Homo sapiens: one gene and its partner. The protein of the gene in region 2 purifies or fractionates together with the protein of the main gene of each other region. This does not show direct contact. Each region holds a gene or a part of one and is shown on either strand. Other genes may lie near its edges.

Region 1 (3,554 bases), on a different chromosome or scaffold from region 2:
AGGGGACAGGCAGTCCGCGGTCTCTGGACAATCAACTCAAGGTACGCCCACTGCAAGGCCTCCCTCCCACCGCGGCCCCTGCCTGGCCACCTGGCCTCTCTGCACCAGGGTGACAAGGGGTCCTCGTCTGCCCCCCAATGCTCCAGGGCCAGTCCTAAGGAGCTGAGGGTCTGAGGACGCAGGGAGGGTGGAGGTGTCCTGAGGCTGATGGACAGTGACCGCCACTGGCCCCCAACATGACCACACGTGGGTGCTGAACTCGGGGCGCCGTGCCCACCGGCATGGTCCTCCCGAGCTCCGACAGCATTACCTCACCCGGCCCCATCTGTTGCCCCGGTCCAGCCCTGATGGCGCGCGCCTGGTCTGTCTGATTCCCCTAGCCGCCACCCCACGTTTCTGTACCGGGTCTCTGCAGTGTTAAACGGACGTGTAAATAGTGGTAAATAGTGAAAGCCTGTCCTTCCCTAAATGTAAAGCCATCTGTCCGGCGTAAGGACGACACCGTCAGCTGTCCGACTCGCACACATTTAATAAACTGAGCTCTTGCATTGCCTGCCGCCATCACCTCTTCCTCAAAATGGGCTGTGGGCGGGTAGGTTCATCGCTGTCTATGTGCTGCCACAGAATTGCTGAGACCCCCCAGGTTAGATCCCTGGAAGCAGAGCCAGAAAGCAGAAACTGGGGGCACAGGGTTTGTGGGCACCCCACCCAGATGGGCCGGGGAGGCACTGGCTGAGGCCAGGAGTCTCCCCCTGGTCCCAAGGGAGGGCAGGCTCCAGGGGGTGCACAGCACCCCAGACAGGGGGTCCAACCTGGGCATTGGTACCTGGGCCAGTTATTATGGCAGGCCCCAGTGTGGGGCAGGAGGCACCCATGAGCCACTAGGAGCTGTGGCTGGTGCAACAGCTGGGATGGGGCAGCCACAGCAGCCACTACCGGGGAGAGTCAATGGTGGACAGGGGCTGCGGGAGCTGGGACGGCCCCACGTCAAAGCCACTTCAGGGAGCACAGCCCTGGCCCAGCTGGGGGGACAAGGAAAGCTATGACTGCAAGCAGCACAGAAGTGCAGGGTGGGAAGGGATGGCAGGAGCCGGCCCCCTCCCCACCTTCCACCCTGGGACACTGCCGGGACCTCCCTCGGCCAGGTGAGCAGCTTCAGAAGCATGACCAGTGAGAAGTCCCTAGGGCCCAGGCCGGGCTAGCCAAGTCCCAGTTTCTGGATGAGGCGCCTCCCAGGCTGTGTGTGGCAGGCCCCCTTTCTTCAGGGAATAAGAAACATCTTCCACATTCAAGAAACAAAGCTGGCTGTGGGTCTGGAGAGAGGGTGAGGCAGCCCCAGGTCTCTGGGTCAGGCGGACGGTCCCTGCATGCAGTGCCCGGCAGGACTGAGCAGGGTTCCCGGGGTCGCCGGTACCCATCCCTCCCCAGCTTCCGGGGCCCCGGGACGGAGCCGCTCACAGAGGCACCATTCAGACGGCCAGACACACACGAAAGCTTTATGTGCAGGGCCCAGCCTCTGGGCCGCCTTGCCCAGGTTTCCACTCAAGTTGCTATTTAGGATGAAAAGCCTTTGGCAAGACCCTCCGCCGCACTAACGCCCCCTCCCCCAGGGCCAGAACCCGCAGGGAAGCAGGCCCAGGACCTGCTGCAGCTGGCAGGGTGGCTATGAGACTCAGGACACCCTGGGCTCCTGGCCAGTGACTCACAGCGGTCCTCCAGCAAGGGCAGTGGCTGGGAGACACCCGTGCCGTGGAGCTAGGCCCAGCCTGGCTGGGTCTCAGGGCTGCTTCTCTTGGGTGACCCCAGCGGCCCAGGGTCGTTGTGAAGATCAACGTGGCTTGTGGGAGGAGCCCGGGGCCCAGAAGGAAGTGGGGTCAGGGGCTCAGGCTGGCCCTCGGGCTGCTCTGACATTGGGTGGGCACTCGCTGGATGGAATCACAGTTAACACCTCGATCCCAACACCTGGACTCAGAAGTGGACAGGCGAGTGCCTGCCCCGGGAGAGGAAGGAGGTGGCACCTGCTCCCAGGGGCCCCACTGCAGAGCACGGCCACTGTGAGCTGACGACAGAATCACAGTACAGCAATAATGTCCCTATCCTCTTCCAGAACCCCAGTGGGGCCCTCAGGTCACGCAGGACGGAGCCAGCTGGGTGGGTCCCACCAACTCGGCATGAATGAGACGACGGATGAACCGCAGCCCCAGCATCAGGAGGGGCGCCTGTGTCAACACCCACGTGGGCTGGGACCCCGTGAATGCCAGTCTGGGGCCGACGGACCCCCAGGGAAAGCCTGGGTGCAGGCCACCTTGTGCGCTGCCCAAGCCTGCAGGCCCCGAGAGGTCAGCCTGAGGAGGCAGCCTCGGCTGCCGGTAATGCTGCCTGCTTCATCTGGGCCACCTCCCGCTCCAGGTCCTCGCCGGCTCGCTGCAGGAGCTCACACCTCTGCCTCAGCACGTTGCCCGCCTGCTGCAGCCGCTGGTTGGCAGCCACGTAGGCCCGGCTTTGCTGGTAGAGCTGCTCTCCCGGGGCCTCCGCATCCTCCATCATCCTGAAGGGAACTGGGGGGTCTGAGACAGGACACAGCAGCATCACTGCCTGCTGACCACCCCATCCTCCTGGGCACCCCTCACTACTGCCCCCAAAGGGCAGGGTTCCCTGCAGTCCCCGAGTGAGCTTGCCAGCCGGGGTCTTCTTAACATGACGGATGCAGCCAGGTGTGGTGGCTCACGCCTGTAATCCAGCACTTTGGGAGGCCGAGGCGGGAGGAACACTTGAGCCCAAGAGTTAGAGACCAGCCTGGACAACATAGTGACACCCCCATCTCTACCAAAAAATACAAATACAAAAATTAGCTGGGCGTGGTAGCACGCATCTGTGGTCCCTACTTCTCTGGAGGCAGAGGCAGGAGGATCGCTTGAGACTGGGAGGCCGAGGCTGCAATAAGCTATGATCGTGCCACGGTACTCCAGCCTGGGTGACAGAATGAGACCCTGTCTCAAAAATAAATAAAAACAAAAATCAAGTAATGGAGGCTTCCTCGTCCATCAGCTGGGAGAGGCACAGTGGCTGGGTGGCAGGAGGGGCTTCCAGCTCTAGGCTACCCGCCTTAGCAAAGCGTGTGACCAGGGGGATCGGGTCACAGAAAGAGCTCAAGCCTCGCCAGCAGTGGCCCTCCTGGGGGCGGGGCTTCCATTCCTGCAAAAGCCGTGGCACCCACCGGGATGGACTCCACTGAGCTGGCCTGGCTCTCATTCCTGCTGTCTCTGGAAGCCAGAGACGCAACAAGCCCGCCACCGAAAACCTCTCCAGGGGCCGTGCAACCTCCTGGAGCACACACTTAGGGAGGCAGGGGTGGCGAAGGTGAGAGGTGGGCATTGACGTCCTGGTGACTCCCACATTCAGCAGAAACTACGTATGGCTCCCTGCTCCCCCACGTATGCAAGCCCAGTGCAGCAGGGCTGAAGCAGCACCGACTTCAGGGTCACTCAGAGAAGCGTCAGGGGCCCCTCGGCTCTGGCCTGCCCCTCGGCAGTGTGGTCTCCCACGGACGAAGG
Region 2 (7,039 bases):
CAGACACTTCTCAAAAGAAGACATTTATGCAGCCATAAGACACATGAAAAAATGGTCATCATCACTGGCCATCGGAGAAATGCAAATCAAAACCACAATGAGATACCATCTCACACCAGTTAGAATGGCGATCATTAAAAAGTCAGGAAACAACAGGTGCTGGAAAGGATGTGGAGAAATAGGAACACTTTTACACTGTTGGCACTGTAAACTAGTGCAACCATTGTGGAAGTTGGTGTGGCAATTCCTCAGGGATCTAGAACTAGAAATACCATTTGACCCAGCCATCCCATTACTGGGTATATACCCAAAGGATTAGAAATCATGCCGCTATAAAGACACATGCACACGTATGTTTATTGCAGCACTATTCACAATAGCAAAGACTTGGAACCAACCCAAATGTCCAACAATGATAGACTGGATTAAGAAAATGTGGCACATACACACCATGGAACACTATGCAGCCATAAAAAAGGATGAGCTCATGTCCTTTGTAAGGACATGGATGAAGCTGGAAACCATCATTCTCAGCAAACTATCGCAAGGACAAAAAACCAAACACCGCATGTTCTCACTCATAGGTGGGAATTGAAAAATGAGAATACATGGACACAGGAAGGGGAACATCACATACCGGGGCCTGTTGTGGGGTGGGGGGAAGGGGAGAGGGATAGCATTAGGAGATATACCTAATGTTAAATGACGTGAGTTAATGGGTGCAGCACATCAACGTGGCACATGTATACATATGTAACTAACCTGCACGTTGTGCACATGTACCCTAAAACTTAAAGTATAATTAAAAAAAAATAGAACCTTGAGAGAAAAAAGCAAGCTATTTAGGGATATTTATAGTATAATATCACTTATGTAAAATTAAAACCCATAGCATAAATGCTCTATATTATTTATGAGAAAGCAAACATCTAATAAAAATATAAAAACAGTGAATTGAGCTTGTAATTATCTCTAGGGAAAGAAAAAGGAAAATCAGATTAGAGATGGTTATATAGTATCAAAAATGCTTCAACTTTATCTCTAGTTTTATTTCTTTAATGAAAAAGGATCCATGATAAATATGAAAATAATGATAAATCATATTGAGTCTATGTGGAAAGTTTACAGATACTTGCCATTTTATGTACATTTATGCTTCACAATCCTCTGTCCTTTTTAAAGTACTGTATAATTTTTAAAAATACTTCATAATTTTAAAAAACACATACTACATATTTTTTTAAAAGTTTCCCATGAAAATATTTCATCAGTCATGAAAAGTTCCTATCCCACATACAAATATCTGTATAAACACTACAAATGGAGATCACTTCCTTCATTTTTTACTAAACGCCATTTTAAGACACATGCTATATGTTGCTTAAGGACTAGAAACTAGGTAATGTCAGAAGAAATGTAAATAGCGATAATATGTTACAGAAAAAGTAGCAAGGATCAAATAAAGATGCCATGAAGAGCAAGAAAGGTCCAAATGGCATAAAATTGAAAGAGGTGTCCAGAGGTTAGTCCAATGCTCAAAAAACATCCTTGGTATTAAATGAGAAGCCAAAGATGTTACTGTCAAAATTTTTTTTTAAACAGGTGTGAAAAAAGTTTCTACTTGAATTTTAACTAGGGGGCACTTAGAGAATATGAAGCAGGGCACATGTCAACAATATGATTTATTACTAAGGCTATAATAAATGTCAAGGTTTTTCTCTGGAAGTCAAAACATTAATTATTAAGATCCCACGAGGTTCCCATAGCAACATACCTGAAGAAGGAGCCTTTCAAAAGCCAGAAAGTTGTCCCACTTGGCAGTCTGTGGGTGTTTCAACGTTTGAGCTGTGGCCAGTCCAAGCTGGAGGAGGCCACAATGATTCATTAGAGCTTTGAGGTTGTTCTTGAAGAGCTGAATATAGGACATGAGCTGTCCCGGTGTGACTCTCCCTGGAAACATAAGAATTTATCAGTGTACCCCCTTCTGGGAATAGTACAAATAATGAGAAGGATTCCATTAATAATACCACTGTCTTGTATTTGGGCAGAACTTCAGAGCTGACTGCAAGCTTTCCTAAGCTATTGTGATTCTTACAACTATATAGTGACAAGAGCAAAACTGGTCCTATTATTAATACCTGCATTTTGCAAGTAAGGAAACAGGGATGCTAATTAAGGGATCTGGCCAAGGTCATGTTGCCAGTAGAATTCATTTTATCATTATGTAATACTCTGTAAATAAATTTTCAAATAAAGTCACACAAATAAATATTTGTTGAGCTCAACTTGGAGTACCTCTTTATGACATATGACATAGCAATCTAAGAGGGAAAAAGATAAGATTTCTAATTGTGTGTGTATGTACCTAAAAGAAGATGAGAAATAGATTATTTCTCATCTAAAACTTTACCATTGATATCAGTGAGTTCATGACAATATTCGTGAGATAAAAGCAGTTACATGGAACAAAAATGTATCAAGAACTACAGTGCAAAACCACTGGAAGAGGAGGTATCAGAAGAAAGGGTTGGTGTGGGGAACAGCACATTTGCTACAATGGTCACCTACATTTAGAACAAGAGAGCCTACCTCATAAAAGCATAGAGACTATACAAACACTTGTACATCTACAAACACACAAACTGTTGAGGATTCACTCCTTCAGAGCCCCTAACTCCAAGTTTTGCCAATAGCTGTCTTTCCACCGAGTCTCCTCCCACTCTCCAGTCTGTAAAATTTCATTCCTGCCATTCCTCCATGCTATGCGCAAAGCTCTTGGACATCGGATTCTCCCCACCAGGCAAAAAGGCAATGGGGCCAAACATAGATGTAAGCCAAGTAATTCATTCCTATATGTTTCACCCATGCCATGTTTGTGGGTTGTTCTTTGATACTGAAATCCAAGTTTATTTGCTTGTTATAAACTTGTTATAAACTGAAATCCAAGTTATTTGCTTGTTAAGTATTTGGCAATGAAACCACCTGCATTTATTTAGCAATTTACACAGTGCTTACACAAACACACCCTTTACTGATTCTCATGGCAACTCCTTGAGGTAGAAAACGAGGCTTGTGCTGCATCTATTAGTCCTGCCTGACGTGCTAAGAAAGTAATGTCTTACCCAGTGCTAAATGGCAGATATCACTTAATAAATGGTTTTTGCTAAAAGTAAAGACCTTGCCACATGAAACTCAAAAGCCTACAACATATCTTTCTATCTTTTCATTAATTTTTTTGAAGAGATAAAGAATGTTTAAGTTCTTCATTACCAGTTTATCAGGGTAAGCATTTAAAGAAAAAGAACAGTGGGAATAAGTAGGAGGGTGAGTCTCATGAGTTTCTTTGGTCCCTTGGTAAAGCATGGGTTTGTTCCTGATTCTCAAAGCAGCAAGCTAACAATCTGCTTGCTCAAGTACTCATAGAAAAAAACCTCATTAATACTTTGTTTCTTTATCAGGTTTATTAAGGTATTTTCTACATACAGTAAAATTCAGCCTTTTCTAGTGTACAGTTCTATGAATTTTGACAAATGGATATGGTTGGATAACCACTGTCACAGTCAAAATACAGAACATTCCCATCATTCCAAACAGCTCCCCTTCTTGGTAGTCCATTCACTTTCCCTAGTTCCAGCCCTGTTGGTTGATGAACCCTTATCCGTGTTTATCTGATTTCCATCTCACAGTTTTGTCTTTCTAGAGTGTCACATAAATGGAATCACATAGTATGTAGCCATTTGAGTCTGGCTTCTTTCACTGAACCATAATGTATCTGAGATTCATCCACGTTGCTGCTTGTATTAGTAGTTTGCTCTTTTTTCTTGCTGAGTGATATTTCATTGTGTGGATGTATCATAGTTTATTTAGCCATTTATTTATCTATTCACTAGTTAATGAGTATTTGGGTTGCTTTCAATTTTTTAGAAATTATGAATAAAGCCTTCACAAACATCTGTGTACAGGTCTTTGTGTGTGTGTGTGTGTGTGTGTGTATACATATGTTTCATTTTCCTTTAGGCAAATTTCTAGGAGCAGGTTTCTAGGACAGATGTTAAGTATATGCTTACTTTTAATTTTTTTTTAATTCTTAAGCTTTATTTTATCACTCTTATCAAACATATCAGAAAGCATATCAACAGTGCATCTTATGTTAAGTTTACAACAAAATTGAACAATGTAATTGTGTTTGATGAAAAAGTTTTATAGCAAAAAAGCGTACAATACAGTCCATTGAAATGCAGGGTTCATGCTTTTTAGGTACGTTAAAAAGTGGAAAATAAAAGACCTCTGCTACTCAGCAACATCAAACAAGTTTAAAAGACTTGAGTGGAAATCAGATACTTAGGGGTTTGTGAAAAAAACTTCTTGGTACTGACCCACATATACATTTATAGTTTCATTTAGTTATTTTTTTTTAATTTTTATTTTAGGTTCAGAGGTACATGTACTGGTTTGTTATATAGGTAAACTCGTGTCATGGGGATTTGTGGTACAGAATGTTTTGTCACCGAGGTACTATGCCTAGTACCCAATAGTTATTTTTTCTGATCCTCTCCTTCCTCCCACCCTCCACCCTCAAGTAAGCTCCAATATCAGCTGTTCCCCTCTTAGTGTCCATGTGTTCCCATCATTTAGCTCCCACTTATAAGTGAGAACATGCAGTATTTAGTTTAAGCACATGTTTAATTTTATAAGAAATTGGCAAACTGATTTCCAAAGTGGGCTGTACCACCAGCAACATATGAGAGTTTTAGTTGCCTTACAACTTCACCAACACTTGGTTTTGTCAGCTATTTTTATTTTAATGATTCTAACAGATGTGTAGCAGTATCTCATTGTGGTTTAAAATTTCATTTTCCTAATGACTAATGATGTTAACCACCTTTTCATGTGTGTCTTTTGCCATCCTATATCTGTTTTGGTGAAGTGTCTGGTCAAATCTTTTGCTCATTTTTTAATTAGGTTGTTTGTTTTCTTATTACTGAGTTGTGAGTGTCATTCACTTTTATTGATTCATTGATTCAACATATATTTCTGTAACAGGCACTATTCCTGTTTCTAGGAATAAACCTGTGAACAAATCCAGACAAAAACCCCTATGCTTGTAGCCAACAAATAAAGAAAACAACTCCTTGATGATCTCCTAATTAATTCAGCCTCTTACGTGTCATTCTCTCTAAAGGGATAGGGACCTTTTGTGCAAATGATTAACATTTTTAAGAAATGATATTCTCTGACATCTATTATATTAAATATGTAAGAACAAATTTTCACACAAAATGGTTTCAAAACTTAAGATTGCCATGAGCTCCATTTATTTATATAAACACTGTACTGCAGGTGATGGCAGTGTGGCTCCTAAACACATAGAACTTAGTCTATCAAGACAAACATTCATTTAATGATCATACAAATAATTACTTAATCATGATAGTGGTAAGTACTGCCAAAGAAAAATACAAAATGTCTTGAAGGTGTGAAAGGCTCTACATGATATGAAAACTGCCTACCTCTCCAACCCCATCTCCTCAACTGAAAGAAGAGGAATTAAATAGATTCAAAATATATACAATTCATTTCTTCTATAACTATGTTTTAGAGAGACTCCAGGAAACGGGAATCACCAGAGGAAGCCATCAGAGGATCTGCTCAGATTTCTATTGTAATAACCGTATGTTCATTTTAAAGATAAAAGTGTCTTTGATTAAAAAACAGTCCAGGCTCGGCGCGGTGGCTCACGCCTGTAATCGCAGCTCTTTGGGAGGCCGAGGCGGGCAGATCACGAGGTCAGGAGATGGAGACCATCCTGGCTAACACGGTGAAACCCCGTCCCTACTAAAAATGCAAAAAAATTAGTTGGGCTTGGTGGTGGGCGCCTGTAGTCCCAGCTACTCGGGAGGCTGAGGCAGGAGAATGGCGTGAACCCGGGAGGCGGAGCTTGCAGTAAGCGGAGATCCGGCCACTGCACTCTAGCCCAGGGACAGAACGAGACTCCGTCTCAAAACAAAAAACAAAAAAAAAAAAAACAGTCCTCGCCAGGCGCAGTGGCTCACGCCTGTAATCCCAGCACTTTTGGAGGCCGAGGTGGGTGGATCACTCGAGGTCCAGGGTTGGAGACCAGCCTGACCAACAAGGTGAAACCCTGTCTCTACTAAAAATTCAAATATTAGCCGGGAGTGGTGGTGGGCACCTGTAGTTCCAGCTACTCAGGAGCTGAGGCAGGAGAATCACTTGAACCCGGGAGGTGGAGTAAGCCGAGATTGCACCACTGCATTCCAGCCTGGGAGGCAGAGAGAGACTCCATCTTAAAAAAAAAAAAAAAGAAAAAAGAAAGAGAAAAATTAGCTGGGCATGGTAGTGCTCACCTATAGTCCCAGCTACTCAGGCAGCTGAGGCAGGAGAATCACTTGAACCTGGGAAGTGGCCAAGATCGTGCCACTGCACTCCAGCCTGGGCGACAGAGTGAGACTCCATCTCAAAAAAAAAAAAAAAGTCAAATTTTTTATCCAATCAGCATTTCCTAGCTGAGACCCAGACTCAGCTACCATATTTATGTAACGTCACCTTCTCATATAAGGCATATGATCTAAAGGAACAAATGGGTATATCTCCTAACAGAAAATATCAACACCACACTACCTTGTGTTCCTTGCAGATTTAGTAGTTATTCACCTTCTCTACTCTGTTCTATTCCCCTTTGTATGTCGTTTTTTACACACTCATGACACTACTCCTTCGTTAGGTATAAATCACGACAGCAGATTTTTTTTTCCTAAAAATCCCTAAGAGGCTAACTGGAATTTAAGTTAAAAAGTAATTCACACAGATGCTCTAAAAAAAAAAAAAAAAGGCCAGTGACATTTTTAAAATTTTTAAATTTAACCATAACCTTACCAAAAGCAAATGGAAATCAACTAATTGACCATCAAAAATGCTGCAGTAAGACTAACCACTGAAGTAAAATTTCTTAGTTTATATAAACTAAAACAGCAAGCAACTAGACAAGTGTTGAAAAAGTAATGGACAGAATATTTATTCA

What was found. The genes of interacting proteins can lie anywhere in the genome.
Region 1: the proteins of SCFD2 (region 2) and C19orf25 purify together in Homo sapiens (affinity purification with mass spectrometry; 2 studies listed by BioGRID and IntAct, with this or other methods). This does not show direct contact.

What each region holds. Positions count from the first base shown.
Region 1 is NC_000019.10:1,472,692-1,476,245, forward strand, and holds the end of C19orf25 (UPF0449 protein C19orf25), read right to left. Parts: intron 2,568-3,554; coding exon 2,341-2,567; 3' UTR 510-2,340; downstream 1-509.
Region 2 is NC_000004.12:53,272,052-53,279,090, forward strand, and holds part of SCFD2 (sec1 family domain-containing protein 2), read right to left. Parts: intron 1,951-7,039; coding exon 1,775-1,950; intron 1-1,774. UniProt on the Homo sapiens protein: May be involved in protein transport.